Homo sapiens: one gene and its partners. The protein of the gene in region 1 interacts with the protein of each later gene in a pairwise test. Each region holds a gene or a part of one and is shown in the gene's direction. Other genes may lie near its edges. The genes, in order: TEAD2, INPP5A, TRIM3 and BCL2L15.

Region 1 (5,350 bases):
CTGCAGTGAGCCAAGATTGTGCCACTGCCCTCCAGCCTGGGTGACAGAATGAGACCCTGCCGAAAGAAAGAAAGGAAGAAAGGAAGAAGGAAAGAAAGGAAAGAAAAGAAAGAAGGAAAGAAAGAAGGAAGGAAGGAAGGAAAGGAAGGAAAGGCCTGCTGAGGGCCTGAACTTTACTGTTCTTGCTGGGAGTGTTGTTGTTCTGGAGCTTGCTGTTCACGGTTCTGGAGCTTTCTGCCATGTGAAGCAGAAGCCTGAAACTGCTCTGGGGATGTGCAGCTGAGGGCTTAGACATTGTTGGGGCTTAAGACAGGCCTTATCAGGTCCCAGGACTGGAGAGCCACCCCCTTAGGAAGCCCAGCTGCTGAAGGGGTTCAGAGGAGCAGCTGGTAAGGTCTTTGGTTTTGCCACGGTGAGAGATGGAGTCGGGCCCCTGAGAAGACGGACCTGGCACAGTGTTAGCAACTAAAGTTAGGAAGAGGAAGAGGTGCGCCTCGCAAGGAGGTGACTCAGACCAAAGGTGTGATGAGCTCTTAGGCTTCCTTAGGCCCCACTTGGCCTAGTGACACTTGGCCAGCTGTCTACACACACTTGGCCACTGGGGTCATGGAGGGAGTCTGACCTCTCAGATTTGGCCGAGGGGGAAGTGCTCTGAGGAGGAGTCAGGCCTCCTCAGGCTCCGTGAGGTCCCGTTGCTAGGGAGTAGCCACTTGCCTTAGCAACCAGAGTGAGAGGGGCTTAGAGGGAGGTATTCATCTTGAACTGGTTGCTAAGAAGTAACTGCCATAGTAACCAGGCCCTTGGAAGGGGCTGAACTCTTGAGTTGCGGGCTTCAAGGGAAAAAGGTTGAATTGGCTGGACACAGTGGCTCATGCCTGTAATCTCAGCACTTTGGGAGGCCTAGGTGGGTGGATCACCTGAGTTCAGGAGTTTGAGACCAACCTGGCCAACATGACAAAACCCTGTCTCTACTAAAAATACAAAAATTAGCCAGACATGGTGGCGTGCGCCTGTAATCCCAGCCACTTGGGAGGCTGAGGCAGGAGAATCGCTTGAACCCGGGAGGCAGAGGTTGCAGTGAGTCAAGATCGCGGCATTGCACTGGGCAACAAGAGCGAGACTTCATCTCAGAAAAAAAAAAAAGAAAAGAAAAAAGGTTGAAATTGAATTCCAGGGCTCCTTTGGTTACTGGGGAGACAGGGCCAAGACTGTTTTGGGGACCCAGACTTCTTCAACGCTGATGGACGGTGGATCTTCTCCAGAAACCAGCCCTTGGAGAACTTTGAAAGCCTGACGCGGTGGCTCATGCCTGTAATCCCAGCACTTTCGGAGGCCAAGGTGGGAGGATCGCTTGAGCCCAGGAGTTGGAGACCAGCCTGGGCAACATGGTGAAACCCTGTTTCTACAAAAAATACAAAATATTAGCTGGATGTGGTGGCATGCACCTGTGGTCCTAGCTACTCAGGAGGCTGAGATGGGAGGATCACTTGAGCTCAGGAGGTCGAGGCTGCAGTGAGCTGTGATTGTACCACCACACATTGCCTGGGTGACGGAGCAAGACCCTGTTCCCCCCCCCCCAAAAAAAAAGACAAACAAACAACAAAAAAACAAAACAACACTGAAGAATCAAGCCGGGAACTGCAGGGGTAATGGTAGGCTATGGGGCAGAGTCCCCACTGTGTTTTTTTTTTTTTTAAGATGGAGTTTCGCTCTCGTTGCTCAGGCTGGAGTGCAATGGTATGATCTCGGCTCACCGCAACCTCTGCCTCCCGGGTTCAAGTGATTCTCCTGCGTCAGTGTCCCAGTAGCTGGGATTACAAGCATGCACCACCACGCCCGGCTAATTTTGTATTTTTAGTAGAGATGGGGTTTCTCCATGTTGGTCAGGCTGGTCTTGAACTCCCAACCTCAGGTGATCCGCCCGCCTCGGCCTCCCAAAGTACTGGGATTACAGGTGTGAACCACTGCGCCTGGTAGTCCCCACTGTTTATAAGGGATGTCCCCTCTGACTCATCTGTGCCTTCCCATCTCCCAGGCGGACCTGAACTGGGGCCCAAGTGGTGAGGAGGCAGGGGCCGGTGGCAGCATCAGCAGTGGTGGCTTCTACGGAGTGAGCAGCCAGTATGAGAGCCTGGAACACATGACCCTCACCTGTTCCTCCAAGGTCTGCTCTTTTGGCAAGCAGGTGGTGGAGAAGGTGGAGGTGAGGCTGGAGGGGTGGAGCTCTGGGTCAGCACTTGGGGGTGCAGAATGGACCAGAAGCCATCATGACTCAGGCATTTGGGAGTATGCATGGAGGGAGTGGGTCCCAGCCTCTTTGAGGGTTTAATGCATGCGTTGGGAGCTAATGGGCAGTTCAGAAGTCACAGGCAGGGATCATTCTGCGGGCTGACAGGTAATGTGTAGTATAGAGACTTAGAGTCACTGAGATTGAGAAGGGTCTTATGGATATGGAGAGGTTCTTAGGGCAAGAAGGTTCAGAAGTCACACTTACAGTTGCTGGAGACTTGGGGAAGTCTCAAGTTTAGAAGTCAGAGTTTGAAGACGTCATGGAGGGGTCTTTGGAGGGTATCTGAGGGCTGGGAGGTTAGAGGAGTCCAGAGGTCTTTGGGGGTTCAGAGAATCACTTTGAGGGGCTTGTGATTTGCAGGCTCAGAGATCCTGATTCGGATCTCCGAGGGTTCAGGCCCAGTCTCCAGTCACTGTGGGTGGGGTGATGAAAGGAAGGTGGCAGTGAGAGTGAGTGTGGTGGCATCTTAGAGGCACAGGGTGGAGCTCAATTCCTGGGGTGACCCGTGGGTCTCTCAGCCACCATTTTCCCAACTCCCTTCCCCTTGGTTCAGACGGAACGGGCCCAGCTGGAGGACGGCAGATTTGTGTACCGCCTGCTGCGCTCGCCCATGTGCGAGTACCTGGTGAATTTCTTGCACAAGTTGCGGCAGCTGCCTGAGCGATACATGATGAACAGCGTCCTGGAAAACTTCACCATCCTCCAGGTGATGCCTGGGGCTGGGCTGGAGTGGGGCCCCCCAGTGTGGAGGGACAGTACCTATAACAGACCCTCAGTCTAGGGGATCTCCTCACCCAGGAACTGACACAGCAGGGACTCCAAAGTGAGCCCTCAGCCTGAGGCTCTTTTAACTAGGAAACTGATGCAGCGGGGACCCCACCATTGACCCTTAGTTTAGGGGACCCTTCACCCAGGGTGGGGATGTCACAGCACTCTCTCTCTTTTTTTTTTTGAGATGGAGTCTCGCTCTGTCGCCCAGGCTGGAGTGCAGTGGCAAGATCTCGGCTCACTGCAACCTCTGCCTCCCGGGTTCAAGTGATTCTCCTGCCTCAGCCTCCCGAGTAGCTGGGATTACAGGCACGCCCCACCACGCCTGGCTAATTTTTGTATTTTTAGTAGAGATGGGGTTTCACCATGTTGGCCAGGTTGGTCTTGATCTCCGACCTCAAGTGATCCACCTGCCTAGGCCTCCCAAAGTGCTGGGATTACAGGTGTGAGCCACCACGCCCAGCCCCACAGCACTCGCACATAAGGTGGGTCCCTCCTTCCCTGGTGAAGCTGACTGGAGGGCACTCGAAGGCAGATCCTCAGCTTGTCAAGGAACATGATATGGTGGGAGCCCCTTTAACTTTTTGGACTGCTGAGGCAGAGACCCCTTGACCGCGGAACCTGCAGGGAGGGTTCTCCCTTTACTTGTGACATGATGGGGACCCCTTTTACCCAGGGAATGTGATGTGATGGGAACCCGATTAACCCTGAGATGTGATACACCATAACTGCCAACGCTCAGCTGAGGGGTAACCCCCATTGCCCAGGGAACTGACTTTTGGGCATCCCTTTCTCCTGGGGAACATGATATGGTGGCGGCCTGTTTCCTGGAGATGGAAAAGAGCCTGCTGGGTATTCCATGATAGCTTGGCAGGGGGGCACAGGGGTCCCTGCCCTCCCTTCTAAGCATAAGTCCCTTGTCCTGGCCTTCCTGGCAGGTGGTGACAAACAGAGACACCCAGGAACTGCTGCTCTGCACCGCCTATGTCTTCGAGGTCTCCACCAGCGAGCGTGGGGCCCAGCATCACATTTACCGCCTGGTCAGGGACTGAAGGGGGACCCCAAAACTGGCTCACCCCCCAGAACACCCTCCTCCCAGGGAGGGTCCTCCAGCTCACCTCATGCTTCTTATTTGGGGAGAGGGCTGTGATGTAAAGGGGTTGACCTCAGAGGCCTAAGCAACTGGGGCCATCCCCCCCATTAGAGGGGCCCCCAAAACTTGGTTGGAGAGCTGAACAGGCTGGGACTGAGGAAAGGATAAACCCCGATATTGGGACCTCACAGTGGGTGTCTGAAAGGACAGATCACTCCGGAGTATCAGGGATTGTGGGGACAGGAGTGAGACAACCCCCCAGGTACAGCACTGGCTTTTCTTTTCAGCCCCTGACAGGCCACCCCCACTCCTCTGCATGTCTTGGAGAGCGCTAGTTACACATTGGCTTGTCCCCTTTACTTTTTCCCAGCCACCCCTCCCCCTGAAATTTCTGCCCCTCTCTACCACCCTCACTCCATGACCTGTGAGATCACAAAGTGAAGATGAACCCTTTCTGTGCAGGAGCAGAGCCAGGTGGGCCCTGGACATTTTTTTTTTTTTTAATATAACGAGATATTTATAAGTGGGTGCTAGGGTCTTGACTTTATCTCCGCTGCACAAGCAGTGTGTTGAACTTTCTAATCTCATCCCTCTCCTAAGTGAGCCCTGAGCTAGACGGTTTCCTTCCTCCCCTCTCAAAGTTTGTTTGTTTGTGTTCTGACAGAGGATAAAGCTATTTTACCAAAAACGCAGGGGATTTATTTGAGGTTTGGGTGAAAAATAATCTTGTGGGTGGTGGTAGGCCGACAGATGGGGACAGGAAGCTGTGGACGAAAGCCCCAGGTCCCGTGGGAGAGGTGACAGCAGCAGGGGCACGCAGCCACGTGGGTCCCCAGGGGAATGTGAAGGCGGAGGGCTCCAGGCGAACTGGGGATTAAACAAATATTTACAGGCAGCAGGGAAGTGCCCAGCGCACGTGACGGGGGCGGGGCGGGACTTTGGGGAGGGCGGGGCCTAACGGTATCGAGCGAGCCGGTTGTAGACGTGGTCCAGGTTTCTGCACAGGAATATCGAGAGCGTCATGAACCCGAGCTATAGAGAAAGGAGATGAGGTCAGAGAAGTCGAAGGGGTGCTGGCGAGACGGGGGTGATGCCCACCCGGGCGAGAAAGGTCAGGGGTGGGGCCGTGAATTGGGCGGGAAGGGGCTGGAGAAGGGGATAGGTAGAAAAGGGCGGGGCTCGACGGGAACTGCCGCAGG
Region 2 (7,479 bases), on another chromosome or scaffold:
GCCAAGTGGCTGACCAGGTTGAAGAGGGTTGGCAGCTGCTGAGGAATTCATCCATGGTAGGAGGAGGAAAATCGGGCAGGCTCTGCTCCCCATCTCCCTCTCTGCTCCTTGCAGACTAGGTGGGCCCAGGATCTCCTTAAGCCAGGTAAGTAGGTCTTTAGGAAACTCGTTATTATTATTATTTTGGCAAAGGAGCAAATACACGGGGCAATATTTCAAGGGTGAAGAAGGGCACACAAGGGAGAGGCATCCTCCCTCTCACCTGGTTTCATGAGTGTGGCTTTTAACACAGGTGACACAAGTGGCCAATGTCTTTCTGAACATAGGAGAGCCAGGCCCCGGGCACAGTGACAGGTCTGCCATGCCCATGCAGCGGTCGGCATGCTGATATGATCTAAGGTGAGGGCCCAGCCAGGTCAGCCGGGAGAAAGTGAACACAGGAAGGGCACACCCAGGACCCCAGGGCCCCAGAACTCAGGTGAGCATGAAGGGAGCCAGCAGAGGAGACTGGGGGTGGTCAGCGCAGTTGGGAGGGAAGAGCAGGAATGCCACAGATGCCAGGGCAAGGCTCACTTCCAAGAGGCAGCCAGTGGTCAACCGTATTGGAAGGTCAGCTGCAATCAGGCCTGGGGGGCTGGCCCTTGAATTAGGATGCCCCATGGGGTGTGGGCATGAGAAGCACAATTCGAGGGCCTGGACAAGAGTGGTCCATTGGCATGCGGGGCAGAGATGGGCAGACTTTTAGGACAAGGTTTGCAGCAAGGAGAGCAGAGAGGGGGGAGGAAAATGGAGGGGCACAGGCTGGAGGCTTCCAGAGATCTGAGAGACCGCAGCATGCTTGTGAACTGCCGACGTGACCCAGGAGGGGGTGGCCTTGGGCGGGGACAGGCACCTCATTCCATGTAGCAGCATGGAGGATGTGCAGGACAGACACCAGATGCTGGATGTGTTGACTTAGTGGCGTGATCACAGTCAGAATCCAAATGGAGTCACTGGTATTAAAAACCCTGACATATAGACTGTGGAAGGGCATGAAGGGAGGGTTCTTATGCAGACATGCTTGATAGCAAGAACAATCACAAAAGACTGCAAAAATCACAGCCGTGCACAAAGACCATCACAACTTACACACACAAACACTTCTGGGAAGACATCTGCCCAGTAGCTGCCTGTCCAGCCTCAGACTGGCACCATCCTTCCTGGAGATCCTTGTAGCCAAGGATCATTGATTCAAAACAATGATGTAATCCTCCTGTTTCCTTTGAAAATCTTTGTCTTCCTTTACCTTCCTTGACCCACACCCAATTTACGATGGCACACATATTCTATTGCAATGAATGTTCCCGAGTAAATCTCATTTTCTTTTAGAGAGCCTCTCTCTGTTATTTAGGGTGACAGTGGGAAAATCCCAGACTGCAAATCCTTCCTCAACAAAGGGCAAACGTTTCCTCCAGGGAGCGTAGTTGGTGGTTAGAGAAGGGGAAGGCTGCAGTGGCCTCTTGGAGTGGTGGAGTGCACATGCGCAGAGCCAGGAGGCCTAGTGCTCAACGTGGGTGTGCCTGAGACCTGGGAGATGCCAGGGGCATGGAAATAAGGTGTTGTCTAGTTTTTCCCCCAATTTAGTTTTCTCTAATTTGGGCGCAGGTTCACTGTAAGCAAGTAAATCAGTCCTGGGGGCCAGCTGGGTGAGTGCTGGGGGGCAGGGAGAGGGGAGGGAGTGGGTACACAAAGTGATTCTACCCTCAGAGAGAAGCAGAGTAAGGCAGGAAGAAGAGGTGTGCACATGCGTGGTCATGTGTGCACGTGTGCATGTTCGTGCATGCGCATGTGCAGATGTGTGTGCGTGCAAGTGCATGCGTGTGCATGTGTTTCTGTGTGGGTGTGCACGTGTGGCGGTGGCTAACGAAGGCATGGGAGCAGCATGGGCTGTAGGTTTCCATGAGGTCCCACGGAAGTGAAACCAAAGGAGAGGAGGTGGTGGGGAGGGCAAGGTGCCTGGATTCGGCCTTGGTGTGGTCATTGGTGATGAGAACATCCAGGCTATGCCCAGGGCCGTGGATGCAGAAGTGGGAGGTCCAGGCCGCACCCCCTTGGGTTCTGGAGGTTCTGGTAATGAGCACGGAATATAGGAGGCAGGAGAACTGTGAGGGGCTGAACCTGTGGTGGGTGAGGGGTGCATGGGAAAGAGGAGGTGGCTGCCTGGAGGAAGGGCAGAGGCCAACGTCCAGGCATGGCAGGAGCTGGCTGGCGAGGAGAGGAGGAGGGGGGAGCAGGGAGGGCACAAGGGGTGGGGGACGCTGCCTCAGCCGGGTGTGAGGGCACAGCCTGCGGGGAGAAGTGAGGAGGCAATGTCCCTTCTCAGAAAGCACGTTCCAGGGATCAGTGACACCCCCACATTTGGTTTCTACTAAGGGTACCCTTAGCATGTGCTGATTTTGTTAAAAAGAAAAATAAGCGACTACATCAGTCAGCTTCAGCTGCTGTAGCGAAATATCACAGGCTGGGAGGCTGAAACAAGACTTTTACTTCTCACAGTTCTGGGGGCTGGAAATCCAAGATCAAGTTCCAGCAGCGTTGGATTTCTGGTGCAGGGTTTGTGGCTGGCTGGGGTGAAGCTTCCCACTGTGCACTCACACTGCCACTTCTTTTGCACATGTAAGGGTGGGGACAGCACTGAGCCCTTTCTATTAAACACTAGCCCTATTGCACGACTTAACATTAAACACCAGCCCTACTGCACGACTTAACATTAATTACCCCCGCTAGCCCACCTCCGAATACAGTCACATTGGAGGTTAGGGCTTCAACCCATGAATTTGCGGGGTGGGGTGGGGTGGGGCGGGCGGAATTCAGTCTGTAGCAGGCACCTACTGACTAAAGTAGACATTGGTTTATACATCAAATGGATTTTGCTGGAGTCCTGCTCAGCGGTGGCCGTAAGGAGGAACCCTGGGGGTGTTAACACAAGCCAGTGATGCGGCCTCAGCACAGGCCTGGGGCCCGAGCCTGCAGCACCATTCCTGCCGCCCCGCCCTGGCAGCAGGTGTCTTCCTAGAACAGAACAAGCCCCTTTTGATGTCATTGGGCATTGCCTTGGCGGTTTACTCAGAAGCTGGAGGCTAGCCTCGCTAGAGCCCATTGCCAGGCCCTGACCGCCCCTAAATCTGTGTCCACAAAATCCTCCGGAGTGCCTGCTCCGCATGGTGGCCACTGGCCACACAGGGCTGCTGAGCACTGGAAGCGGCCTTGTGAGCTGCTGCCAAGAGGCAGGTGCCCGTGCAAAGCCTTCCTGTGAAGGAATCTCACTGAGGTTGTTAAATTCTGGTTACATGTTGAATGATGTATCTATCTATTGGGTTAAGTAAAACGTATTGTTAACTTTGGCTATTACTTGTTACCTTTAAAAAATGTAGCTACTGGAAGCTTTAAGATGACAAATGTGGTTCTCCTCCTCCATCTACAGGCATGTCCCGGTTCACGGCGGCTGTGTCCCCGCGGCCTCAGACCCAGGGTCCAGCCCATGCTCTGGCCCCTCCGGCGGCCAGGATCAGCATCGCTGCCCCGGGGCCCGCGCCGAGCCGGCTGCTCCTCCGTGCTCTGCGCTCCTGGGCCCGCACCAGCCCCCTCCCCTGGAGCCCCCTTCGTCCCTGCGAGGGTTCCCTGCACGCCCCGCGCTGAGACCCAGCCTGGCCCGGGCCGGAGCCCTCCGCGACGTCAGGATGCGCCTGGCCTCACGCCGCCTCCCCTCCGTCTTCTCTGGGCCGCAGCCGCTCCTCGTGAGTGAGGTCGCGGCCAGGGAGCCGGGTGGACGCGCCGGGAAGCTGCACGGTCCACGCTCCGTCTGCGCGGAGAGCCGGGCGCGCGTGGCCCGGCCCCTGCAGGCGCGACTGCCGCCGCCCCGGTGGGCTCCCCTCCCCCGCACGCCCGGCACGCGGCTGGACGACTGCGGCCGCGCGGGGGCTGGAACATCCCCTCAGAGCCGCAAGAGAGCGCACCCGCCGCCGGCGCCCGGAACCCAGGGCCCCTTTAAGAGGCGCCGCCGGAGCAGGGCCGTGACGTCATAGAAGTGCGAAGGGCGGAGTCTGTGCGCAGCCGCGGCGCGGGGGGCGGGGCGGGGGCGCGGCGTTCTTGCGGGCCTGACTGACAGGAGCGCCCTCCGGGAGCGACCAGTACTAGGCCGCCGGTCGCAAGAGCGCCCCGCGTAGGCCCCGCCCCGAAAGGAGGCCCCGCCCCGGGGCAGGCCCCGCCTCCACAAGGACACCAAGTCCCGCACAAGCCACGCCCCCCGCAGGCCCCGCCCCACTCTGTTCAGATCTAGGCCCAACTCAGGCTCCGCACCTCAAGGCTCCGCCCCCAGCAAGGCTCCGCCCCAGGCCCGGCTCCACCCCGCACAGGCCCCACCCCGAGTCAGGCTCCGCCCCGCCCAGGCCCCGCCCCGGGCTCGGCTCCGCGGGGCGGGACTTGCCCTCAGCCTGAGTCGGCGGCGGCTGCGGGAACTTTCCCAGCGGATCTAATGGCTGCGCGCGGGCCGCTGTGAGGCGCGGCGGCGAGCGACGGGCGCGGGGCCGCGGAGCAGCGAGCGAGCGAGCGAGCGCGAGGCCGGAGCCCCGGCCAGGCCCGGCCGACCCGCCGAGCCCGCGATGCGCCCCGGGGCCGCCCCCCGGCGCAGCTGACGCCCCGCGGCCCCGCGAAGACCCCGGCCGGCCGGTCCCGGAGGAAGCGGCCGCCGCCGCCGCCGCCCAGCCCAGCGCCCGCGCCGCCCGGGCACCATGGCGGGGAAGGCGGCCGCCCCGGGCACCGCGGTGCTGCTGGTCACGGCCAACGTGGGCTCGCTCTTCGACGACGTAAGTCCCCCGTGCCGGCGGCAGGCCCCAAGCCCGGAACCCCCGACCCTGACCCCGGGGTCCCGAACTGCAAGCCTTGGACCCTGGACCGTGAACCTCCAGACCCAGAGGCCCCAGACTCTGATCCCTGTACCCGGGACCCCAGACTCCTGTCCTGATTCCCAAGTCTGGGAGCCCAGACCCCTGTCTTGATCCCCAAGCCCGAGACCTGAAGACCTGGGCCCTGAATCCCCGAACCCCATCCTCCAGACTCCAGCAGCTGACCGTTGACCCTGGGACCCTGCCTCTGAACTCCTGTCTGCAAATCCTGACCTCGAAACTCCAATATTAAAACCCTGTCAGAACCCCTGTTAACAGTTCCTGGAACCCAAACCCCAGAAACCGGGTCTGTGCGCACCAAACCCAGCCCCAGCCCTGATTTCCGAATCCTCAGAACCCTGGCCCTGGAATGCCCATCCCCAACCCTGGCCCTGAACCCCAGGTCCATGGTCACTGGAACCACAAATCCTGACTGCAGAACTCTGGTTACAGAACCTGCTCTCAAACGTCTGTCTCTGGTCCCTGAGCCCTGGACCCCAAACCCTGAAACATAACCACAAACCCTAACCCAGGAACTTCTGACACAGGGCTGTGGCCCCAACCTCCTGTCCCTGTTCCCCAATCACTGAATTCTAGCCCTAGAATCCCAGCCTTCATACTGTGGCCCTTTGCCTCTAAAGCCAATCTAGCCTGACTCTGAACCCTGAATTTCAACCTCAGGCCCCAGCTTATGGCCCTGAACACTTGTCCTTGACCCCTGAACCTGGAACCCTGGTTCCAGAATCAGGCCCCAAACCCAATTCTGGACCCTGCCCCTAACTCTGGTTCCTAGATCCCATCCTTGGCCCCTTCCTCCAACAAGCTCCTGCCCCTGAATCCTGAATCCTGAATCCTGGTCTTAAAGCCTGGGCCTTGAGCCTGCAGAATTCCCAAACCCTAACCCTTGACTCCCACCCCTGGCCCCTGTCCTCTGAGCCTAGGCCCTCCACTCTGGCTGTCAGCCCCAGCTCCTGGATGCCTGGGTGCCGGCCTCACTGTCTGTCTGTCCCTGCAGGGCCAGAGGGTAGGGTGCCCCCATTTAACCCTGCCACTTAGTATCTCTTTAGTTCGTAAATAAGGGAAGTCTGTAAAGCACTGTAGGACTTTATATTTCTTGTTTATTGAAGAAAAAGATGCTGAGAAGCTCTTCAGGGCCAGAAAGGGGATGCTGACTGCCTATGGCCTTTACCTTCTAGGGCCCCTCCCACCCAAGCCTCATTCCCACCCAGGATCCCAGGGTGCCCCCATCTCTGGAGAGACCAGGGAGCTGAGGCCCAGGGCGCACTGGGAGCTCCCCAGAGGCAGGCCGGTCTGACCTAGTTTGGCGTTTCAGCCACGGTGCCACCCTGCTGTTGGTACTCCTGCTGCCAACCCAAATAAAGCAGAGTGAGGCTCCAAGTGGCCCAGATGGAGGCCGTGGAGCCACGGACGCTCCCTCCCTCCCTCCCTCCCTCCCTAGGTGAACAGTGGGGCACCGCACCAGCTTTATGACGGATGTGTGCCACTGATGCACGCGTGGTTTCCATTTCAGGAGGAGGTCTTGTGTCTTTGCTGGCAGCAAGCATGGGTGAAGTGTTTGATGAAGCTCAGTTCATGCACAGGCTAGGTTTGGTTTTTATTAACAAAAGGCGCTGTTTTTCTGTTTTTCTTATTTTAACTTCCAGGTGCCCATGTATTATACTGACCTGCTGGGGAGGAACTGGTTTTCCTCACACTTTATTATTAACAACTTCATCTAGGTTTATGTTTGATCATTTTCTACAAAAGTGCCTGGCATGGGTGTGTGTCTGTATATTTGGCGTTCTATTCTAGGCTTTCCAGTAACATGTCACTATAGCATGGTTTTGTTCAGATGATTCAGATCCGTTAGCTGCGGCTTCAAAGCCTCAGAAATGTCAGGAGCATTAAGCTTGCTGGGGCATTTTAGTCTCAAAGGGAAACGAGTTTTACTGTGCAGACATTCTTTCCAGTAATCTTTGATTCTGAGTTCTAGCATTTTTGTTGTGTTTCAATTGTATACACGTATTTATCTCTGTTGATATTAAATTGGGTAACTTAATTCACTTTTGTTTAGCAACCTATTCTCTCTGAATTTTCATTTTTCTTAAAGGCTATGTGGAATTTTGCATTATGTTTATGTTTAGAAGGAACATTTGTTTAGGTCAACAGTACATAGGTTAATTCTGAAAGGTGCATTGTGATTTCAGGGCTGAGTGGAAACTTATCTGTCCGTGTCTGAAGATTTCTTAATGTGTGCAGCTCAGTCCCCGGGGGCCAGACCCAGTCTCCTTCAGTGGAAACCAGCCAGGCACTCACATTCCCAGGCCCCCTTCCTTGGTTGAGGTTTGGGGTGTGGTACTTGTGGGCCAGAAGCCTGGCCGGTGGAAGGAAATTCATGAGTGAAGGAAGTTTTGGTTTCTTGGTTTGTCCTGGATTTCAGGGGACCTGCTTTGAGATTCTGTTTGCCTTTGTGCAGCCCGTCCCGTGCTGACGAACGCACCCTGCAGGCAGTGCTCAGGCTGTGAAGGAATCTTTCTCGCCCAGTCTCACCGTGTTG
Region 3 (7,028 bases), on another chromosome or scaffold:
ACTGCGCCTGGGCTCGGCCCCGGAGGTGTTGCTGGTGCGCAAGCACATGCGAGAGCGGCTGGCTGCATTGGCGGCACAGGCCTTCCCGGAGCGGCCACATGAGAATGCACAGCTGGAACTGGTCCTTGAGGTGGACGGTCTGCGGCGATCGGTGCTCAATCTGGGCGCACTGCTCACCACGAGCGCCACTGCACACGAAACGGTGGCCACGGGAGAGGGCCTGCGCCAGGCGCTAGTGGGCCAGCCTGCCTCGCTCACTGTCACTACCAAAGACAAGGACGGGCGGTTGGTGCGCACAGGCAGCGCTGAGCTGCGTGCAGAGATCACCGGCCCGGACGGCACGCGCCTTCCGGTGCCAGTGGTGGACCACAAGAATGGCACATATGAGCTAGTGTACACAGCGCGCACGGAAGGCGAGCTGCTCCTCTCGGTGCTGCTCTACGGACAGCCAGTGCGCGGCAGCCCCTTCCGCGTGCGTGCCCTGCGTCCGGGGGACCTGCCACCTTCCCCGGACGATGTGAAGCGCCGTGTCAAGTCCCCTGGCGGCCCCGGCAGCCATGTGCGCCAGAAGGCAGTGCGTAGGCCCAGCTCCATGTACAGCACAGGCGGCAAACGAAAGGACAACCCAATTGAGGATGAGCTCGTCTTCCGTGTTGGTACAGACAGCCGAGGGCAGAGCCAGATGGGCCAGGCTCAGGTAGTGGGTGGGGAGGGAAGGGAGGTTCAAGATGACCTCTGAATGAATTATTTTGTTTTCCCTCCTGTCCCTTCCCACAGGCAGTCGTGGAAGGGAGAAAGGTGAATTCACCAATTTACAAGGTGTGTCCGCAGCCAGCAGCGGCCGCATCGTGGTAGCAGACAGCAACAACCAGTGTATTCAGGTAAGCACCTTTACCGCTCTCCTCCACCACCAAAATAAGAGTTTTCAAGCTACAGGCTACTGAAAAGATAGAATGTACAGGTCACCTCCTGGAAGATGGAACCCTACAGATAGTACCGTTCCTTAAGAGCAGTGAATCAAAGGATCACCCCTTACGCACCCACCAGCCACCCCATTCCCATAGGCCACAACTGTAACCAGCACCTTCAGTCAGAAACCAGAGTTTACTATGCTTGTAGCCTCTACTTTGTAGGCCATGGCTTAGGGCAGGTCAGCTCCTGGACTGCAAAGATCTGGCTCATTCCTCCTTTCCTTCTGCCTCTCCTTGAGCCTCTTACTTTCTCCCTTTTTCTCCTGGTGGCCTGCCCTCCGTGTCTTCCAACATGCATGCCTGGCTCCTGAATGTATGTAGTCTGTCTGGAGTCTCTGCAGTTATCAGGTTGGCTAGACAGTTGCATAGGGGTATCTTGGCCAAAGGGGGTATCTTTCAGTGGCTAGAAGTTGTAGCAGGTGGTCCTCCCACTGCCTCTCCCATAACCTCATACACCTGATTATGGCATCAACCGCACTGAATGAACATGGTTTCTGCTGCACTGTGAGCTCCTTTTCAAAGCCAGGAAATGTGCCTTTTTTTCCCTCTGTTTCTTGTAGTAAAAGCTCAGAGCCTAGTACAGTGGGCACCAGGGTAGTTGACACAGCAGAGCAGTTAAAAGCTCAGGCTCTGAAACCAGACACCTGAGCTTGAATCCTAGCTCTGTCACATACTAACAAGTCACATGACCTCTTTGAGCTTCAGTTAACTCATGTGTAAAATTAGGAAAAGTATATCTGATAGGGTTGCGGGGAGTGTTAAATGATGTACTATACTTGACATCTAGTGAAACTTCTGATGTTAGCTATTGTTAAAAATATCATCGTCCAGGTGGAGGCTGTAAACAAAGGCAAGCAGGTGGGAAAGTGCTGGAGGAGGTGGTTCAGGGAACTGGAAGGAGCCCAGCAGGCCTGGAGGTAGATTACTATTAGAAGCCAGGGGTAGCTGAGGTCAGATTGTAATTGGTTTTGGAGATGGAGTGTGGAATTTTGATTTTATCCTATAGGGGATTGTTTCTAACTACCATGCACTTTACTTCTTCGAAACATTTTACTGGGTAGCAAAACTTTTCGCTGAAGATCCTTACTTCTAAACACCTATACGTTTAAACTTCCTGACCCTGCTTGAGTACTCATGTCATCGATCCAGCTCTGCTAAGGTCCTTTCCCTCAGTGACGGCTACTCTCTGACCCCTGCTTTTCACCTAACAGTCTAAAAGTGCAAGGGACTCTTCTGTGGCCATATTCCCAGTTCTGTCCAGTCGTCCTTTACTCCTACCCTATTTCTAAGAGCAGAGGAATGGAGAGGCCCTGTGCAGCACAGGAAGGCATTTGGGCCCAGCCTGGATAGTGAGGAGGGGATTGCGGGGGAGTAATGAGGTGGTGCTCAGTTCCCTACTCAGTTACACCTTCCAGCTCCTTTCCAACTCCCTAGGCTGGGAATGCTTCCTGGCATAAAAGTTGAGATTTGGGACCCCTTCTCTGTTGTGCACACACACAGGTGTGCTCACTGCTCACATGCACAGAAAAACAAGTGCCACTTTGTCTGTCCTGGTGAGGGGGCTGAACTTCCTCATAGTTTTTTTTTTTTTTTTTGAGACAGGGTCTCTGTTGTCCAGGCTGGAGTACAGTGCTATGATCACAGCTCACTGCAGCCTTGACCTCCTGTGCTCAAGCAATCCTCCTACTTCAGCCTCCCGAGTAGCTGGGACTACAGGCGCATGCCACTATACCTGGCTAATTTATTTTATTTTATTTTTATTTTTAGTAAAGACGGGGTTTCACTATATTGTTTGGGCTGGTCTGGAACTCCTAGGCTCAAGCTATCCTCCTGCCTTGGCCTCTGAAAGTGCTGGGATTACAGGCATGAGCCACTGCACCTGGCCTCCCCATTGTTTCAGAGTGGGGAATTGAGAGGGAACACCTGGTATAGCTCCACTCTCTTCCAAACACCTGCTACTTCTATAGCAGTCCTCCTCTTGCTTCTACTTCCACCTGCCCTCTATGTCGCCACTGCTAGGAGCCTGGCTCAGATTTCTAAGTTGAATTTCTGCTTCTCTTACTCTGGAGTCCTTAGGGCTGGCATGGGCTGGGCTCCCTGATGAGGTCTGATCCCCCTCCTCCTCTCAGTACATGGGGATTGGGGTCCTCACGACATGACCGTTTTCTCTTTTGGACACTTCTATGGTGGAGGATGAGGCAGACCTCACTGAGTGGAACCAGCATCAGTTGACAGAAGACAAAAAACATTTTGTGATTCTGAATTAATAATTTGATTTGTATATATTATGTCCTTGTGTAATTGTCTAAGCTTCCAGTTTTATCAGCTCTTCTGTGAAAACTCCCTCATTCCCTTAGGCAGAATGTTAAATCACATTCTTCTCAGTTCCCTCAGCCTTTTGCTATAGTACTTTTCATACTTTACTGGAATCACTGGTTTGTTTTTGTTTTTGTCTGGTTTTGTTTTGTTTTATTTTGGTTTAAGTCTTTCTCCCCCACTAGACTGTGAGATCCCTGAAGTCAGGGATCTACTTTCAGATACCATGGTATAGGAGAGAGATGTTAAGGACCAAACTAGGACACCAGCAGATTCTAGAGATATTAAGGAAGCAAGAATGGCAGATTTTGCTAAATCGTCAAATGTCAAGAATGGCAGGACTTTGTGGACTGGGTAGATGGTGTTGCCATTCAGGAGCAGGCCCAGGTTTAAGTTGATGAATTCACTTTTGCAGATGTTTGAGATAGCTATGCGGCATTCAAGTGGAGATGTCCAGTTCAGGTCTGAGATTGAGCTGGGGAGTTCATTCATTTGTTGAATGCCTACTATGTGCCAAATGCCATATCAGTGCTGCAAGTGCAGCAGCAAACAAAACAGATGCAGTCCTTATGCCATGCGAGGCTTACATCCTTAGAAGGGGACACCGATATTTAACAGTTATTTAGCTGCAAAGTGATAATTGTTATGAAGAGAGCTGTAAAGCATATATCCTGGTGACCTAAGTTTATATGTGCATATTGATTTGGTAGGGCGGAGGGTGGTACTTGGTCATTAGTCTTCTCTGAAAAAGTGACCTGGAAATTCTAAGAATGGAAAGATGAGTAAGAGTTGGCCAGGTGTCAGGGGTGGGATAGGCTGGGACTGGAAGAACAAGACATCCCAAAGCCTCATCAGTATTGAGCCAGAACCTGAGCTGCTCAAACTGGAGGGGCATTACCTCACCGCTAAACTGTACCTTTTAGTGCCCCCTCACTTCTACTATTTAGCTCGTGGAGCTCATGGTATCTCCCTTCTCATACTGATGAGTGCTGTCCTGCCACAGGGGACCACTGCAGAACCCAAGAGCTGTGCTGGTCAGCCAGAGAAGAGCTTAGTAGAAGGTCCACATTAGAAGAAAGTGATGCCTGTTGGTGGGACCAGTTTAAACAGCCCTGCAGGACTAAGAGATGGAGTTGGGGTGGGGCCGGGGCGGGGAGACCAGTCCATTAAGGAAGGCACAGATTTGAATCCAAGAGCAAGGCCAATGCCCAGAACTTGAGTTCTCCAAGGCTGCTCCTGGCTCTCGTTCATCTTGTGTCCCCAGAGCCTATAACAAAGCAGAGTGTATGAGACTTATGTAGTGAGTAATGTTTTGACTATGAAGGAAAAGCCAGAAAGCTTAGCTAAAGTGGGAAGGAGGATTAAAGGAGGTGCTTTTGGGATGGGGAGACCTGAGCATATTGGGCAGCTAAATTAGAGGAGGTTGGAGAAGGGAGAGGTTGAAAGGTTCACTCTGTGTAGGAGGAAGGTTTCCTTGTCAGCCCCATAGCCTGAATGGACTAATTCTTGTATACTTTCTCCTCTCTCACCTACCCCATTCCAGTCTGCTACTAAGTCTCATGAGCCTACCTCCTACATATGTCTTGAGTCCATCTGCGTCCCTCCAGCCAATTTCCTTGGTCCAAGCCATCATCATTTCTCAACTGGAATACTGCAACAGCCTCTGACTGGGCAGCTAGCTTGTAGTCTTGACTTCTCCCTACAGCCAGAATGTTCTTTCTTAAAAGCAAAATTGATCTTGTCACTGCTATGCCTAGAAATGTTAAGAAACTCCTCATTACACCCAGGATAAAACATAATTCCTTCTTTTGTTCACCTGGGTGCTCCCTGCAGTCCAGCCACACTGGACAAGTCCTCAAGTGGTGCCCATACTGGACTTTGTGCCTTTTACAATCTGTTCACTCTGCTTGAATGCCTTTCCTCTTCCTTTCCTGGCCGAATTTGGTTTATGTGGCATCCTCATTAGGCTATTTGTTCAGACATCTTCTTCTCTTGGAGCCTTTTCTCACCATTCCCCTTCATCCCTTCATGTTCTCACAATCCCATTCATATCTCTGTTGCATTGCCCCAGACCTGCTGCCATGTTTGATTTTGTCAGTAAGTGCTTGTTGAATGACTGAATAAATGGTGGTGGGGGGGTCTCCTCCCTCAGGATCCTACTCCCTTCTGTCTGTGCCCACAGTGTCTCCCCTCCTACCTGCTCCCTCCCCTTGCTCCTCTGCTCCAGGTTTTCTCCAATGAGGGCCAGTTCAAGTTCCGTTTTGGGGTCCGAGGACGCTCACCTGGGCAGCTGCAGCGCCCCACAGGTGTGGCAGTGGACACCAATGGAGACATAATTGTGGCAGACTATGACAACCGTTGGGTCAGCATCTTCTCCCCTGAGGGCAAGTTCAAGGTGAGAGGCCTGCTGTCACTTTACTTACCCTGGTGTCCAGCTGAACTGACCAGTCTAGTGCCTCTTGGTGGTCAGGGTCTGGACTGATCCAATCCTACCTCCTCCTACTCCCTGTTCTTTCCCCAGCCCAAGATTCTGCTTTGGTACTGGGTTAGGACTACTTTCCCCACTGTCAGAATAAAGCCTCTTATGGATATTCTCTTCCTCCAGACCAAGATTGGAGCTGGCCGCCTCATGGGCCCCAAGGGAGTGGCCGTAGACCGGAATGGACATATCATTGTGGTCGACAACAAGTCTTGCTGCGTCTTTACCTTCCAGCCCAATGGCAAACTGGTTGGCCGTTTTGGGGGCCGTGGGGCCACTGACCGCCACTTTGCAGGTATAGGGGGACAGCTCCAAGATCTATGCTGATACCCCTGTTCCAGAGAACTCCCCTAGATACCCCAGCTGTAAAGGCCCTCTCCTCCTATATCTTGGCTCTGGAGATCCCACTTCCCTTACGTTAGCCCTATCATCTCAGAAATAATTTGTCTCAGTCCTGGAGACCCCACCCCTCTCCTAACACCCTAGCTTTTATCTTCCCAGATACTCTTCCCCATCCCACTCAGCATCCCAGCTTACTGCCCTGAAGACCACTTTGTATTTTCAGGGCCCCATTTTGTGGCTGTGAACAACAAGAATGAAATTGTAGTAACGGACTTCCATAACCATTCAGTGAAGGTCAGTGTCTTCCCTCCCTCCGTGACCACTGTCCCAACATCCTTTCCTCTTCCACAAGACTCCTCTCTATTTTACCTCCTCCTTTTCCCCTTTGAGATCATTCACTCAAACAATACACATTTACACATTTATGCATGGCTGCTTTGTCCCAGGCAGTATGCTAGAAGCTGGAGATACAGTGATGCACAAAGCAAATGTATTCTGTGTCTTCTTGATTATAGTCTAGTAGGGAAGAGAAAAAGGTAACCAAAAAATTACAATATGATGTAATAGATTCTGTGATAGGAAGGTGCAGGGAACTGTGGGAAGGGATACAGAAGTGTATGATTCAGGAAAGACTATATGAGGAGGACCTCAAGCACAAGTGGGAATTAAATGGAAGGCAGAGGAGGACGAGAGTGTTTGAGACAAAAGACACAGGAAGAGCCAAGAATGCAAGGTGGGAACCTTAATAGTGTGTTCGAGAAATCACAAGTAGTTCAGACTCAGCTTGAGGAGGGGACCGTGAAAGCTGAGAGTGAGGCTTGTGTGCCCCCTTAAGGGGCTTGCTCTCCTCCCAAGAGCTATGGGGAGTCACAGGATTGCAGGCAGGGGAGTGATGCAGTCCTGTGTGTCTTAGATCACTC
Region 4 (7,228 bases), on another chromosome or scaffold:
GAGTTTGAGACCAGCCGGCCAACATGGTGAAACCCCGTCTCCACTAAAAATACAAAGAATTAGCTGGGTGTAGTGGCGGGTACCTGTAATCCCAGCTACTCGAGAGGCTGAGGCAGGAGAATCGCTTGAACTTGGGAGGCGGAGGCTGCAGTGAGCCGAGATTGTGCCACTGCACTCCAGCCCAGGTGGCGGAGTGAGACTCCATCTCAAAAAAAAAAAAAAAAAAAAAAGGCGTAGCAAGGGAACAGGATGCAGGTGGTAGAAATTGAGTAAACTTATTGACTTTTTAAAATTAAAGACTATAACTGAAATGTTGATCTAAAGAAAATTAGGTATGACTAAGCAACTGAATAAATAATAATACTAAAGTGATCCCAACTATTGGAGCTTTTAGAAGACTATGTTCTACTTGGTTGCTTTTCTATAATGTAAGAGGAATACATAGAATATGAAATTGTTGCTTTTGGAAAATATACTTTTAAGATTATCTCAATGAAGAACTGATTTCTCCTGTAGCCTGGTTTTACTAATTTATAAGCAAAATGACTAAAGCTCAGGTATACTATGAAGTTAATTCTTTAATATTTCCCCTGCTAGGAACTCTGTATAGCTTCTGCAGACATGGGGTTTGATGATGTGATATAAGTAGATGTTTATATTTTACAATCCATGAAGGTAGTCTATACTGTGCTCTTAGAACAGCAGCCATCTAATGTCATTCTTAGTTGACAGGTAAACAGTATGTTACGTATGTAATGAGGTTCCACAAAGACAATAGTGTTTTGGAACACTGCAGAGGCAATAATTTGCATATTACCATCATTTTATAGTTATGAATCAGTGACTGTGATGTGTTTCCATTACCCCTATTTTTGAACAGGCGTTCTGTTAAAAGTATTCTATTCCTTTCTTAGATATGGGATGTTTAGGGGAGAGGGGACACATTACTTGTTTTCTTAGTTACAAGTCTCCATGTTGAGAGGAGTTACACTCAAGGATCTTCATCCACATGCACATCTGGTACAGATGACAAGATCCTGGACTTTAAGCCAATGATATGAGACAAAGCATTTTGGGGAGGGATGTAATTTGTTGTGGTCAGAGGGTGGCAAGAGAAACAAGTGACGGTGAAAAAATTCTGGCCTCGTGATTTTTCAGTAATAATTAAGAGCACAATATTACAACTGCAAGGGTGAAGGTATGTGGGCTGAGGGAAAGGGATAGTTTTGGAGGGTGCTATATTGAAGGCCCAGAAGAAGTAAACAAACTTGGAAAAAATTTACTCCACATTGCTAATGACAGCCTGTACTCTGTTTCTATAGCTTTACAACATTGATTATACAAGACAATGCAAAGGAGTTGAAATTAGATTTTTTTTTTTTTTTTTTTTTTTGAGACAGAGTCTCATTTTGTCATCCAGGCTGGAGTGCAGTGGTGTGATCATGGCTCAGTGAAGCCTTGATCTGGGCTCAAGTGATCCTCCTGCTTCAGCCTCCTGAGTAGCTGGGACTATAGGTGCGTGCTACCACCCCTGGACTCAAAATTCGATTTCAAAGATGGCATAAGCGTATTGATAGTGAAATGAGGAACGTGGTTTATTACTGTGGGAAAAGCTTGAGTTTAATGTAAGACAGACTTGGTTTAAAATTTATATTCTGCCACTTACTGATGTGTGAACTTGGGCAAGCTATTTAATACCAGCTGGATGGTCTCATAAATATTTTTATTTTTTATATATTGTTTTGGGAGTATGTCACAAATGTATTTTTTAGAATCCTTCAACTGTCAGTGGCTAGCTCTAATGTGAAAGGAGGTTAGCCTAGAATTTTCTCTGAGTGCCCGCCCTTCTGATGTTAAAAGTCTGAAGCCTACTTAGTAATAATGAGGTTTCAGCCCTTTTGCCTCTAGAGAGAATGAGCGACAGATAATGACAAATGAAAATAGCACTTTAGCTACATGGGAACATAATTTGTGTTCTTACTCCAAAAGCAATTTATGATCATTTTTAAAAATTAAGACTTTTTAAGAGCAGTTTTAGGTTCAAAGCAAAATTGAAACAAAGGTACAGAGATTTCCCATATACCCTCTGCCCCAACACAAGCATAGTCTTCTCTGTTATCAACATCCTCAATCAAAGTGGTACAATTTGTTGTAACTGATGAACTTACCTCATCAATTATTACCCAAAGTCCAATTACCACCCAAATTCCTCCTCATCTTTTCATGGCCTGATCTTTTTTTTTGAGACACAGTCTTGCTCTGTCACCCAGGTTGGAGTGCCATGGTGCCCTCTCAGCTCACTGCAAACTCCGCCTCCCAGGTTCAAGCAATTCTCCTGCCTCAGCCTCCTGAGTAGCTGGAATTACAGGCGTGAGCCACCGCGCCCAGCCAGCTCATTTCTTTTTAGCACTAAATAATGTCTATTGTCTGTATGTATCACAGTTTATTTATTCATTTACCTACTGAAGGACATATTGGTTGCTTCCAAGTTTGGGCAGTTATGAATAAAGCTGCTATAAACAACCATGTGCAAGTTTTTGTGTAGATAAGTTTTCAGCTCCTTTGGGTAGATACCAAGGAGTATAATTGCTAAATCATATGGTAAGAGGATGTTTAGTTTTGTGAGAAACTGCTAAACTCTTCCAAAGTGGCTGTACCATTTTGCATTCCTACCAGCAATGAATGACAGTTCCTGACCCACATCCTCACCAGCATTTGGTTTTGCCAGTGTTCTGGATTTTGGCCATTTTAATAGGTGTGCAGTGGTTGTATGTGTTTTAGAATGGAACAGAAAACACAAGATTGGCTTTGATATTTTGCAAGATAGAAATTCCATTCTGAACAACTGACTTACTGTTTATGCTTGAATCTTTTTTTGTTTTTTTTTTTTTTGGAGACAGAGTCTTGCTCTGTCACCCAGGCTGGAGTGCAGTGGCGTAATATCGACTCATCGCAACCTCCGCCTCCCAGGTTCAAGCGATTCTCATGCCTCAGCCTCCTTAGTAGCTGGGATTACAGGCATGCACCACCACGCCCAGTTCATTTTTGTATTTTTTAGTAGAGATGGGTTTTGCCATGTTGGCCAGGCTGGTCGTGAACTCCTGACCTCCGGTTATCTGCCCGCCTCAGCCTCCCAAAAGTGCTGGGATTACAGGTATGAGCCACCATGCCCGGCCTATGCTTGACTCTTTTATTAGTTGGAGCTGTTAATATTAATAACTTCACCAGGTCAGACAGGTTGAGTGGTAAGTTTGCTGATAGGTTTGATGGCTGCTTCTGAGACCCAGACCCAAAATCTAGGTTTAGCTACGTTAAGAAGGCAACCACTACAGATAAGTGTCCAATCATGAGATCTCTTAAAACAATGATGGAGTCCAACCCTGTTAGGAAAATCCTTTTGCTAGACAGAGAATCTCAGATCTCTTTCCTCCTGGTCATTATGTCTTGGGCTAAAAGGAGGACATTTAACATTTATTGTATGCCAAACAGTGCTAGGCCATTCCGCATGTTATCTTATTTAATCCTCATAATTTATCTATGAAATATTTTCTGTTGTCCCCATTTATAATTCCAAGTTGTTTTTTTTTAACCTTCCCAGACTTTATATCTGCTACCTCTCCGCCTAGAATAGTGTTATGCCTCCTTTTTGCATAATGAATGCCTACTTATTCCTCAGAGCTCATGTCAGATGGTACTATTTTAAGGAAGCCTTCCCAGTCCCCTAGGTTTGTTTCCCTATTAAACTGATCAAAGGCTTGATTCCCTGTTACACTTCACTGATCAAAGTGCACTGATCTCAATAGCACAAATAACAATGCGATTACTCATTTAATATCTGTCATTTCTGCTGAAGTGTAAGCTTCATGAGCACAGTAACTGTGCCTGTATCATTTTTCTATGTTACTTGTAGTGCCAACTATAGTTCCTTGTTCAGTAAGTAATTATTATATGATTATGGCAAATAAATTCCATAAACAGAAGTTGAACGCTGGTCCACTGTAACTTCAAAACCTTCCTTCAAATTATACCATGTGCAGGACCTAAGAAGTCGAGGAAGTATTTCTTAATAAAATTACTCCAGAGGCTCTTCCTGAACTCTATTTCAGTTCTAGGTTGGCTACCTAACGATAAAAGTTAAGCATTAATTTTATGTGGTTAGGGTGTGGTCTGAGATAGAGAACCTAAAGTCTTTAAAGTCTCCCCAGTTCCAAGTAGGTAATCCTTCTGAGAAGTCCCACCTTTCTGAGCAGCTGTGTTTGAAGAAAGCTAGTGGGAAAAGTTCCAGGATTACATGTCAGGAAACTACAAGAGGTAGAAACATTTGTTGATTTACCAGTGTTTTTAACTTCCTGCTGGGCTGAAAACTGCTTGTTTCGTGGAAAAGCAAAACTTGACAGCAAACATCTAAAATGAAGAGCTCCCAAACTTTTGAGGAACAAACGGAATGCATTGTGAACACTCTACTCATGGACTTCTTGAGCCCAACATTGCAGGTTGCCAGCCGGAACCTATGCTGTGTAGATGAAGTAGATTCAGGTAAGGTTCCTGCCCTAGGCGGTGATTGCAGGTCAATAAGAGTATGTTTTCAGCCGGGCGCAGTGACTGATTCCCGTAATCCCAGCACTTTGGGAGGCCAAGGTGGGTGGATCACCTGAAGTCAGGGGTTTGAGATCCGCCTGGCCAACGTGGTGAAACCCCATCTCTACTAAAAGTAGAAAAATTAGCCAGGTGTGGTGGCTCATGCCTGCAGTCCCAGCTACATGGGAGACTGAGGCATGAGAATTGCTTGAACCTGGGAGGCGGAGGTTGCAGTGAGCTGAGATCACGCCACTGCACTCCAGTCTGGGCGACAGAGACTCGGTCTCAAAAAAAAAAAAACAGTATATTTTATTTATTTCCTTTAAGTTTCAAAAGGCAAACTCTAAGCTTTCAGTAACACCTAAAGCGAAAGAGGTTCTCAATGAAGGGAAACTTTCTGACTATTGGTGTTGACAGAACATTTAAGCTCTTGGGAGATCATGATATGAAAATTATTTAAAAGACAAGACAAATTTTTCTCATTGCCCAGATTCCTGGGACTTGCCATTGCTTCAAGCATTGTAACAAATGTGTTCCCTCTGTCATAGGAGAGCCTTGTTCTTTTGATGTGGCTATCATTGCTGGTCGCCTTCGGATGTTGGGTGACCAGTTCAACGGAGAATTGGAAGCTTCTGCCAAAAACGTCATTGCAGAAACCATTAAGGGACAGGTCAAGTTTCTACTTCATGCTATTGTTTGCTGCTTTTTTTTCTATTTCAAACTTCCTTTTCTTACTACTCCCATACTACAGTGACTAGGAATGTTCTATGAAAATATTTGGGTGCTTATATTTCAAGGAAGTATAGCAAGAATTCTCCAATTGCTAAAACCTAAGTGGTACAGAGATGGAAAATTTTGGGCATAGGCTGATGAACCTTCAGTTTGTCTCTACTTGGTCTTCATCACAGCTGTTGTGCTTAGTGTGCACAGAGCACATTTATAACACTTTATTCTTGGCAAAGTATAGTATCTTTTTTTTTTTTTTTTTTTTCAGACAGGGTCTTACTGTGTCACCCAGGCTCAAGTGCAGTGGTGTGATCTCAGCTCACTGCAGCCTCCACCTCCTGGGCTCAAGCGATCCTCCCACTGCAGCCTCCTGAGTAGCTGGGACTTCAGGCAAGTGCTACCATGCCCATCTATTTTTTTTATTTTTTTATTTTTAGTAAAGATGGGTTTTTGCCATGTTGCCCGGGCTGGTCTTGAATGCCTAAGCTCAGGTGATCCACTCACCTCGGCCTCCCAAAGTGCTGGGATTATAGGCGTGAGCTACCACACCCAGCCTATGCTTTTTTTTTTTGAGATGGAGTCTCACTCTGTCACACCCAGGCTGGAGTGCAGTGGCGCGATCTCGGCTCACTGCAACCTCCACCCACCGGGTTCAAGCAATTCTCCTGCCTCAGCCTCCCAAGTACCTGGGACTACAGGGGTGAGCCACCGCGCCTGGCCCATCTGGGCGGATCACCTGAGGTCAGGAGTTCCAGACCAGCATGGCCAAAATGGTGAAACCCCGTCTCTACCTAAAAATACAAAAATTAGCCGGGCGGATCACTTGATGTGAGGAGTTCAACACCAGCCTGGCCAACATGGAGAATCCCTGTCTCTACCAAAAATACAAAACTTAGCTGGGTGTGATGGCCCATGCCTGTAATCCCAGCTACTTGAGAGACTGAGGCAGGAGAATCGCTTGAACCCGGGAGGTGGAGGTTGCAGCGAGCCAAGATCACACCACTGTTCTCCAGCCTTGGCGACAGAGCAAGACTCTGTCTCAAAAAAAGAACCACCCTCTTAACCGTTATGCTTTATTCGTCCTACTATACACAGCTTGGGCAGTGTGCCTACACTATGTTCAGGCAGAGCTGGACCTGTTACTCCCAGTTGCTTGCCCTGAGGCTGTCCTAGGTAGTTGATAGCTGAGTTGACTTTTTTTCTCATTAAACATATTTTTTTTTTTGGCTGGGTGCTGTGGCTCATGCCTGTAATCCCAGCACTTTGGGAGGCCGAGAGGGGCGGACTGCTTGAGGCCAGGAGTTTGAGACCAGCCTGGCCAACATAGTGAAACCCCATCTCTACTAATAATACAAAAATTAGTTGGGCATGGTGGCACACACCTGTAATCCCAGCTACTCGGGAGGCTGAGGTAGGAGAATTGCTTGAACCCAGGAGGCAGAAGGAGGTTGCAGTGAACTGAGATCTCGCCACTGCACTCCAACCTGGGCAACAGAGCGAGACCCTCTCTCAAAATAAATAAATAAATACAAATACAAAAATTAGCCAGGCATGGTGGCACACAACTGTAATCCTAGCTACCTGGGAGGCTGAGACAGGAGAATTGCTTGACAGGGAGGGGGAGTTTGCAGTGAGCCGAGATGGTGCCATTGTACTCCAATCTGGGCGACAGAGCAAGACTCTGTCTCCAAAAAAAAAACATAAATAAATAAATAAATAATTTGACTTGAACTTGTTTTAATAAAAAAAAATATATTTTGAAACAGCCCTAAACTCAGGGAAAGGTTGCAAGGATAGTACAAATAATTTCTCTCTTGAATCATTTGACAGTAAGGAGTTGACATATTTCATCAACCCCTAATACTTTTATACTTCCCTCAAACAAGAACATTCTGTAATGTAACCACAATCTAACCATCAAAAC

What was found.
Region 2: the proteins of TEAD2 (region 1) and INPP5A interact in binary tests that used the Homo sapiens proteins (3 or more experiments, as listed by UniProt).
Region 3: the proteins of TEAD2 (region 1) and TRIM3 interact in binary tests that used the Homo sapiens proteins (3 or more experiments, as listed by UniProt).
Region 4: the proteins of TEAD2 (region 1) and BCL2L15 interact in binary tests that used the Homo sapiens proteins (3 or more experiments, as listed by UniProt).

What each region holds. Positions count from the first base shown.
Region 1 is NC_000019.10:49,340,084-49,345,433, reverse strand, and holds the end of TEAD2 (transcriptional enhancer factor TEF-4), read left to right. Parts: intron 1-2,035; coding exon 2,036-2,203; intron 2,204-2,843; coding exon 2,844-2,996; intron 2,997-3,996; coding exon 3,997-4,110; 3' UTR 4,111-4,839; downstream 4,840-5,350. UniProt on the Homo sapiens protein: Transcription factor which plays a key role in the Hippo signaling pathway, a pathway involved in organ size control and tumor suppression by restricting proliferation and promoting apoptosis.
Region 2 is NC_000010.11:132,533,328-132,540,806, forward strand, and holds the start of INPP5A (inositol polyphosphate-5-phosphatase A), read left to right. Parts: upstream 1-4,459; 5' UTR 4,460-4,769; coding exon 4,770-4,844; intron 4,845-7,479. UniProt on the Homo sapiens protein: Phosphatase that specifically hydrolyzes the 5-phosphate of inositol 1,4,5-trisphosphate to inositol 1,4-bisphosphate, and inositol 1,3,4,5-tetrasphosphate to inositol 1,3,4-trisphosphate. Plays a crucial role in the survival of cerebellar Purkinje cells.
Region 3 is NC_000011.10:6,449,925-6,456,952, reverse strand, and holds part of TRIM3 (tripartite motif-containing protein 3), read left to right. Parts: coding exon 1-656; intron 657-777; coding exon 778-881; intron 882-4,830; coding exon of another isoform or gene 4,831-5,079; exon of another isoform or gene 5,080-5,514; coding exon 5,515-5,682; intron 5,683-5,892; coding exon 5,893-6,061; intron 6,062-6,331; coding exon 6,332-6,402; intron 6,403-7,028.
Region 4 is NC_000001.11:113,884,557-113,891,784, reverse strand, and holds the start of BCL2L15 (bcl-2-like protein 15), read left to right. Parts: upstream 1-4,203; 5' UTR 4,204-4,409; coding exon 4,410-4,536; intron 4,537-5,126; coding exon 5,127-5,248; intron 5,249-7,228.